Linked DNA regions of Homo sapiens. The protein of the gene in region 2 purifies or fractionates together with the protein of the main gene of each other region. This does not show direct contact. Each region holds a gene or a part of one and is shown on either strand. Other genes may lie near its edges.

Region 1 (3,500 bases), on a different chromosome or scaffold from region 2:
GGGCTACCTTGTGAAGCTGGGCCCTGGATCTAAGCCACATGACGACCCCACAGAGCGCCTGTTACTCACGTGGTTGTGGATGAAAAGTCGCATGTGTTTCTGGGGGTAGTGGAGCCGCAGGAGCCGCTGGAAGAACAGGGACACAAACGGCGTGGGCTGTTCGATGAACACGCCGACCAGGACCGTGGGCAGAGCTTCATCCTGCACCAGGGAGGGCGGCACAAGAGTCCAGCAGTGTCCAGTCACAGCACTGCCACTCCACCCCAGGGTGGCCCAAGGGAGTCAGAGCCAGAATCAGAAGCATGTAGACTTCCCAAGAAAGGTGCCCGGGCCGGGGAACTCCAGTCAGGGGGTACGGGGGGGCAGGGAAGCAGCAGGAGGGTGCCCCGGGGAGAGAGCAGCAGGAGCCCAGGCCTGGAACAAGGACTCGGTTGAGGGCCTGCTGTCAGGAGATCGTGGCTGGCGTGGTGTTCGAGGTGAGTCATAAATGAGGATGAGGTTCATGGGATGGGGAGGGGGCTGCAGGAGAGCCTGAAGGACCAGGCAGAAGAAACCAGAACCTGGACATCTCGGGGGAAGCTAGAGACATGCAATCTGAGAGGGCTTCCAGGAGGAGGCACTTGGGTGGCAACCGGGATAGAACCCCAGGCAGGGAGGTGACCCCTTCACTTTCCACCAAAGACAATGGAGTCTATTCCAGAATCACCCATCTCGCCATCTCAGGGGACTGAGCCCCCCGTGTCCCTCAGGCACAGGCCTGGGCGCAGCCTCACCCCAATGCCCTTGAGGCTGCGCAAGCCTTCGTCACACACGGTGCAGCCTGTTTCGAAGGTCCAGAAGCGCGGGATGTAGTTGCCCAGGTAGTTCAACTGCAGCTGTCGGGGAGACGTGGGGTCACAGAGAAGCCAGCCAGCCCCACCTGCCATAGCCCTGACTCACATCTCCCTGGGCCCCCAGTGGGTCAGCACCATCCAGCCCCCTCCCACTCCCTAAGAGGGTCTTGGAGATAATGCTCCATCCCCAGGAGATCACCAAGCCGCTCTGAGAGAGGGCAGGGGAGGGCTTGGCACTCTAGTGCTTCTCCCGAGAGCTTGTAAAATGCAGATTCCTGGGTCCCACCCCGCTCAGAGATTCCATCTGAACAGATCCTGGGTGAAATCAGCAAATTTGCATTTTAAACACATCACATCCTCCTTCCTCTCCCTCATTCCAGCGGTGAAGGACCACACTCAAATATGCTATGAGCTATGAGCCAGTTCCCCAGGGACCAGTGAGGTCCATTCTGTCCCTGGCCGCATCTGCACCCAGTCCCTTCTGTCACCATGAATGCAGGACATCCGTCCTGCTTATGACTATGTCTTACTGTCTGGTGCAAACATGAAATAAAGGTTTACTGAGTGAATAAGTGACTCTGCCCTGGGGTGACAGTGCAGATGGCTCTGGTAGCCCAGCCTAGGCCTGGAAGGGGATGGCAGCCTCCTACGTGTCCTGTGACCAGCAAGAACAGACAGAGTACCACTGACCACCACAGCAGGAAAAGAAGGCATCACGCTGAGCTCAGATGTGAGGACAGAGGCAGTGAGTTCATAGCAGGCCCCAGGAAGGTGGCCCTGGCCCCAGGGAGACACTGTGGGGTCACAGTGAGAATGAAATTAGGGCTCTGGCCCCCTCCCACACTCCCCAGGGGCTGGGGACCCCCTACCTTGGTTGGCCCGTTGCCATGGATCAGGACCGGGAGGGTGTCATAGGCCAGGTTCCTCGCTCTCACATGGCCCATTTCAAACTTGAGCACGACCTCATCTGGGGGTCAGAAAGCACAGTCCCACCCAGCATCAGACCCAGAGGTCAGGCTCAGGGTCCAACCAGCTGGGCTCAAATCCCAGCTGTGCAGTGAGTAGATTATGTCCTCGGGCAAGTCACTTCTCTCTAAGCCTCAGTTTCCTCATCTATAAAATAGGAATAATCCCTTCTTCATGGGGTGAGGGGGAGGATTTGTGTTGAACAAGCGTGGGGCACCAAGCCTGGCCCATCATGAGCACAGAATCCACGGCAACCCCTGTACTTGTTGTGGTTACTTACAGTCAGAAGCAGGGGCTGGGAGAAGAACGAAGACCTGGAACATCCCAGCTCCAGGCACCTCAGAGAAGCCCCAAGAGAAAGGGTCTGGGACGCGCCTTCTCTGAGTAGGCAGAGCAGCACTGAGAAAATGCCAGAGCCACATGCAGGGGAGGCCTGGGCATGATCAGGACAGATCTTGTCCCAGTGGAGGGAGCCCCTGCAGCAGGGTTCCAATACTCATGTTTTTTGTGTGTGTTTTTGTTTTTTGTTTTTTAGAAATGGAGTCTCATTCTATTGCCCAGTGTGGAGTGTAGTGGCATGATCTCGGCTCACTGCAACCTCCGCCTCCCAGGTTCAAGTGATTTTCCTGCCTCAGCCTCCTGAGTAGCTGGGATTACAGGCACATGCCACCACACCCAGCTAATTTTTGTATTTTTAGTAGAGACGGGGTTTCACCATGTTGGTCAGGCTGGTCTTGAACTCATGACCTCTGGTGATCCACCCGCCTTGGCCTCCCAAAGTGCTGGGATTACAGTGCCTGGCCCCCAATACCCATGTTTGACCCTATTAGTCTGCACATAGGAAAATGGGTATTTCAGCTGGGCACGCTGGCGCACACCTGTAATCCCAGCACTTTGGGAGGCCAAGGTGGGAGGATCACTTGAGCCCAGGAGTTTGAGACAAGCCTGCGCAACATAGTGAGACCCTGTCTCTATTTTAAAAATTAAAATAGGGCTGGGCACGATGGCTCACGTCTGTAATCTCAGCACTTTGGGAGGCCAAGGCAGGTGGATCACCTGAGGTCAGGAGTTCGAGACCAGCCTGGCCAACATGGTGAAACCCCATCTCTACTAAAAAAATACAAAAATTAGCCGGGCATGGTGGTGTGCGCCTGTAATCCCAGCTACTTGGGAGGCTGAGGCAGGAGAATCACTTGAACCTGGGAGGCGGAGGTTGCAGTGAGTCGAGAATTCGCCACTGCATTCCAGCCTGGGCGATGGAGCAAGACTCCATCTTAAAAAAGAAGAAAAAAAAAGGAAAACAGATAGCTCCTGACCTGCGTGGATCTGAACTCAGTGCTTCTTAACCCCCAGAAACCACAGGCAAAGGGCATTTTCTGCGTTTCTCTGGGAGCAGAGCCGTAGCTTTCATCAGATTCTCAAAAGGGCCCATTTATCCACAAAATCAGCAATCAGTGGATCCGGTTCACTTCCCTTTTGTAAAGATAAGAAAACTGAGTCCCCTGTGGGGAGGAGGTGTGACTTGCCTGAGGTCACTCAGGAAGACAGGAAGACCTGCGGCAAAGCAATGTCATCACCAGCCACAGACATGAGGCCAGGCCCAGGGATGTTTGCGGCATCAAGGGTCAAGTAGCCTTTTGCTTCCCAAGCTGCCTGTCCCACCAGCTGAGTTCCTGCCCCTAGCCCAGGACTCCTTCACCT
Region 2 (3,500 bases):
CTCAGCCCACATTCACATCTGTCAGCTCCATTAATGGATGGGCTCTCCCACCCCCACCCCTCCCAGCCCCTGCCCCCAGGGCCACCTGGGGAGGCTGGGCAGGTACTTACAGCAGGGCCAGGGGGTCCTGCAGCACCTGTCTCACCATCTTTGCCAGGAAGACCCTAGACAGAAGAGAAAAAGAAAAGTCAATGACACGCTTTTCTTCCCACTTGCAGTCCCCCTAGGATTGGGCAAAGGTACTTCTGGCCCAGAGTTTCCAGACCTCCACGGTACCCCAGCTGAGCTCCATTTCCACACCTTCCCCTCCCTTCCTTCCCAGGCCCCGTCTTTTCTTAGCTGTTCTCAGCATGGAAGCCTTCCCCAGCTCCCCGGCCTGCTGACCAATGGCAAACAGAAGTCTCCCTGTGTAGACACCCAAAGGGCCCAGCCAGCATGGGGCTCAGCCACAGAGATCAACACTCAATACTGAGGGGTCCCGGGACCATGCCATGGGGAGGCCGTTCCCCTGTCCTCCCTGCAGATGCCCGGCCAACACCAAGTCATGGGCAGCGGGGAAGGATACTTACCCTCAGACCAGGAGCACCAGGCAGTCCCTTCTCACCAGCTTTGCCAGGCTCACCCTGAAGGAAAGAGAGGGCAGGGCCATGAGGCGGATGGTTTGGGAGGGAGTTGGGGGCAGAGCGGGCTGCAGGGACTGAGGCCTGGGGCCACATCCTGATGGACAGCCAAGATAAAGCAAAGTATCAGCCCTTCTCTTCTGTTCAGGGGCCATAATGGCAACCAGCCTGCTGGGCACTGCCACATGGAACAATTATGGCCGCAATGCCCCGAGGCTCTGTGGGGCCATGGATTTTCCCCAAATCACATACAGACCCCCACTGCCACCCATGGCACAGGAGCCCCACTCATCACTGTCCCTGGTTAAACTCTACTCAGGACCCAGCCCTTTCCCCAAGAGGGCAGGGAGGTAGGTAGCACCACATGGAAGGAAATAGAAGAGCAAATTATTACTTACGTTGGCACCTTTGGGGCCAGGGAAACCCATGACACCAGGCTGCCCACGAGCCCCCTGAGGACCTGGAGGTCCAGGACGACCATCTTCACCAGGGGCTCCCTGAAAGACAGAACACCATTCTCAGAACATAGACACTCTGACCACATCCATCCACCCAACATCCACTAAGGGCCTACATGGCAGGCCCAGGACTAGGCACCAGCCACACATGCTCAGCATCTAGGATTGACCACATCACACCCATGGGCCCATCTACAACAAGACACCGCTGAGCTTAGAAAGCTGCCCCAGAAAGTGCACACACGATGTCATCATTCCCCCAAGGATAAGCCCCGAATGCATACTGGGGTGGCATTTTCAGTGCTCACAGCTACTGCACAGGTTACATCTGGCCCCAGTGCCTACCATCTACCCCCTGTCACAATTCTCAAAATTCACAGTACTTCAGGCCTCCCTAACCCAAACTCCATCTCTCTTTTCCCTTGCTTCCCCAGGGAGATCCCCCCACCCTCCTAGCAGCCCTCAGAGGATAGACTTACAGAAGGGCCAACTTTGCCTTGAGGACCAGCATCACCAGGGCGGCCAGTGAGACCCTTTGTTCAGGAGAGAGAAGAGGGTGGGGTCAGGAGCCGGCCCCAGGACCTCCCAATCCTGGCAGTGCAGGGCTGGAAGGAGCCAGCCAGGAAGGGCCTGAGGGTCTGAAGCCAAGGGCAACAGCAGCTCTGCTACTTACCCGGGCTCCAGGAAGGCCAGGTTCTCCAGGACGGCCAGGGTCACCGTTGGCTCCCTTGGGGCCAGCAAGACCACTGGGCCCTCGCTCTCCAGGGGCTCCCTACAAGGGTACACAGGGAGTCAGTGGGATACCATGTGACCTCAGCGATGCAGGGAGGGACCCCAGCCCCTCTTCTCCCACTCACCTTGGGACCTGCCAGACCATCTTGACCTGGGAAACCGCGGTTGCCGGGAGCACCCTAAGGAGCCACAGGGAGGAGAGGCAGTGAGTGAGAACAGCCCCAACCCAGCCAGGCTCCAGTGGGTCCATCCCACTAACCCACCAACCCCAATTTCTGGGGAGCAGTAGCTGTGGCCTGCAGGATTCTCAGAGGTTAACTTCTGGAGCCTGCCCCGCTTCCTGGGAAGGAGCTCAGACTATTTCATGTCAGTCTGGTGGTTGGCGGCACAAATCAGGATCAGACTCCCTCTCCCCGCGGTGTGGATGGAGAAAGAGGAGGATGACATGCGGAAAAGTCACGAGACTTGACCAGAACACGGACCACAAGGACTCCACTTCCCTCTCGAGGTCACAGGCCCCATGGGATGGAGCCTCCACATTCACTTAACTCTTTCTCCAGGGGGACCGATGGGCCCAACGCCACCAGGCTCTCCACGGGCACCTCTCTTGCCTTCTTCACCAGCGGGTCCAGGGGCTCCCTGGGGGCCAGCAGGGCCCTGAGGACCAGCAAAAAAGAGAAACAGAGTGAGCCTTCACCTGGCCTTGGAGCAAGCCTCGACTCAGAGTATGAAGGAAGTAGCCTTGGCAACTGTTTCAGGGCTGGGGGGGGGCTTGAGGACGAGAGGCCATAAAGGACGAGCCATGGCAGGGCAGAGGGAAGTGAGAGGGGCTAAAGATCCAACTGTTCACACTAGCCAAACCAAGGATGGGAGCTGAAGCTGTATCTGGGCCTTCTCAGCCCTGTTAAGTCTCCTCCAGGCATAATCTGAAAGGACCCAGATTGGGGGATAGAGCCCTGGAGGAGGGAGGTGGTGGGTCAGTGGGGCTGAGGCCTGTGCCTCATAGAACAGCAGCAGAGAAGACAAGGGCTTGGGGGCAGATACTCACAGGTTCTCCCTTGGGGCCTTGTTCACCTTTGAAGCCAGCAATACCAGGTTCACCCTTGAAAAGAGAGGCAGGTCCTCACACCAGATTCTCTCCAGGGAGCCTGCCCCTCCCCAGAACCCCTGTTCAAGATGCCCTCGGATGGAGGCCGCTGTGAGGCCAGGGCAGGAGAGCATGGGAAAGAGGGGTGATGGGGTTTGACTCCAGAGATGTCAGTGGAACTTGGGGGTCACTTTGGGCTCTTACCGTCTGACCTTTCGGGCCCAGAGGACCAGTTGCACCTTGAGGGCCAGGAGGGCCCCGTGGCCCAGGGAAGCCAGGAGCACCAGCAATGCCAGGAGCACCCTGTGGGCATGAGAAGAAGGGAGGGGTGTCAGGAGAGGGGAGAGGCAGGACTGGGCTCTCCTGGGGTAGCAAAGTCCACGGGCAACACTCACAGCAGATCCTTTGGCTCCAGGAATTCCATCTGTTCCAGGGTTACCCTGAAAAGGGAGACATTGTCAAATAAGCAGCAAAGAATGAACCCCAACCACCTCCAGCCCTCCAGGATCCAGATCCAGGGACCTGGCATAGGTGCTGTCCATTTCAGGGACATTCCCACTATGTGTTTCAAGGGGAAGATGGGATAGAAGGGAATACATCTAG

What was found. Proteins that work in one complex are often made in the same cells at the same time.
Region 1: the proteins of COL2A1 (region 2) and PLOD1 purify together in Homo sapiens (affinity purification with mass spectrometry; 2 studies listed by BioGRID and IntAct, with this or other methods). This does not show direct contact.

Annotation. Positions count from the first base shown.
Region 1 is NC_000001.11:11,955,217-11,958,716, reverse strand, and holds part of PLOD1 (procollagen-lysine,2-oxoglutarate 5-dioxygenase 1 isoform 2 precursor), read right to left. Parts: intron 1,801-3,500; coding exon 1,703-1,800; intron 876-1,702; coding exon 774-875; intron 202-773; coding exon 70-201; intron 1-69. UniProt on the Homo sapiens protein: Part of a complex composed of PLOD1, P3H3 and P3H4 that catalyzes hydroxylation of lysine residues in collagen alpha chains and is required for normal assembly and cross-linkling of collagen fibrils.
Region 2 is NC_000012.12:47,983,977-47,987,476, forward strand, and holds part of COL2A1 (collagen alpha-1(II) chain isoform 1 precursor), read right to left. Parts: intron 3,338-3,500; coding exon 3,293-3,337; intron 3,201-3,292; coding exon 3,102-3,200; intron 2,913-3,101; coding exon 2,859-2,912; intron 2,468-2,858; coding exon 2,360-2,467; intron 1,990-2,359; coding exon 1,936-1,989; intron 1,851-1,935; coding exon 1,752-1,850; intron 1,612-1,751; coding exon 1,558-1,611; intron 1,118-1,557; coding exon 1,019-1,117; intron 624-1,018; coding exon 570-623; intron 165-569; coding exon 111-164; intron 1-110. UniProt on the Homo sapiens protein: Type II collagen is specific for cartilaginous tissues. It is essential for the normal embryonic development of the skeleton, for linear growth and for the ability of cartilage to resist compressive forces.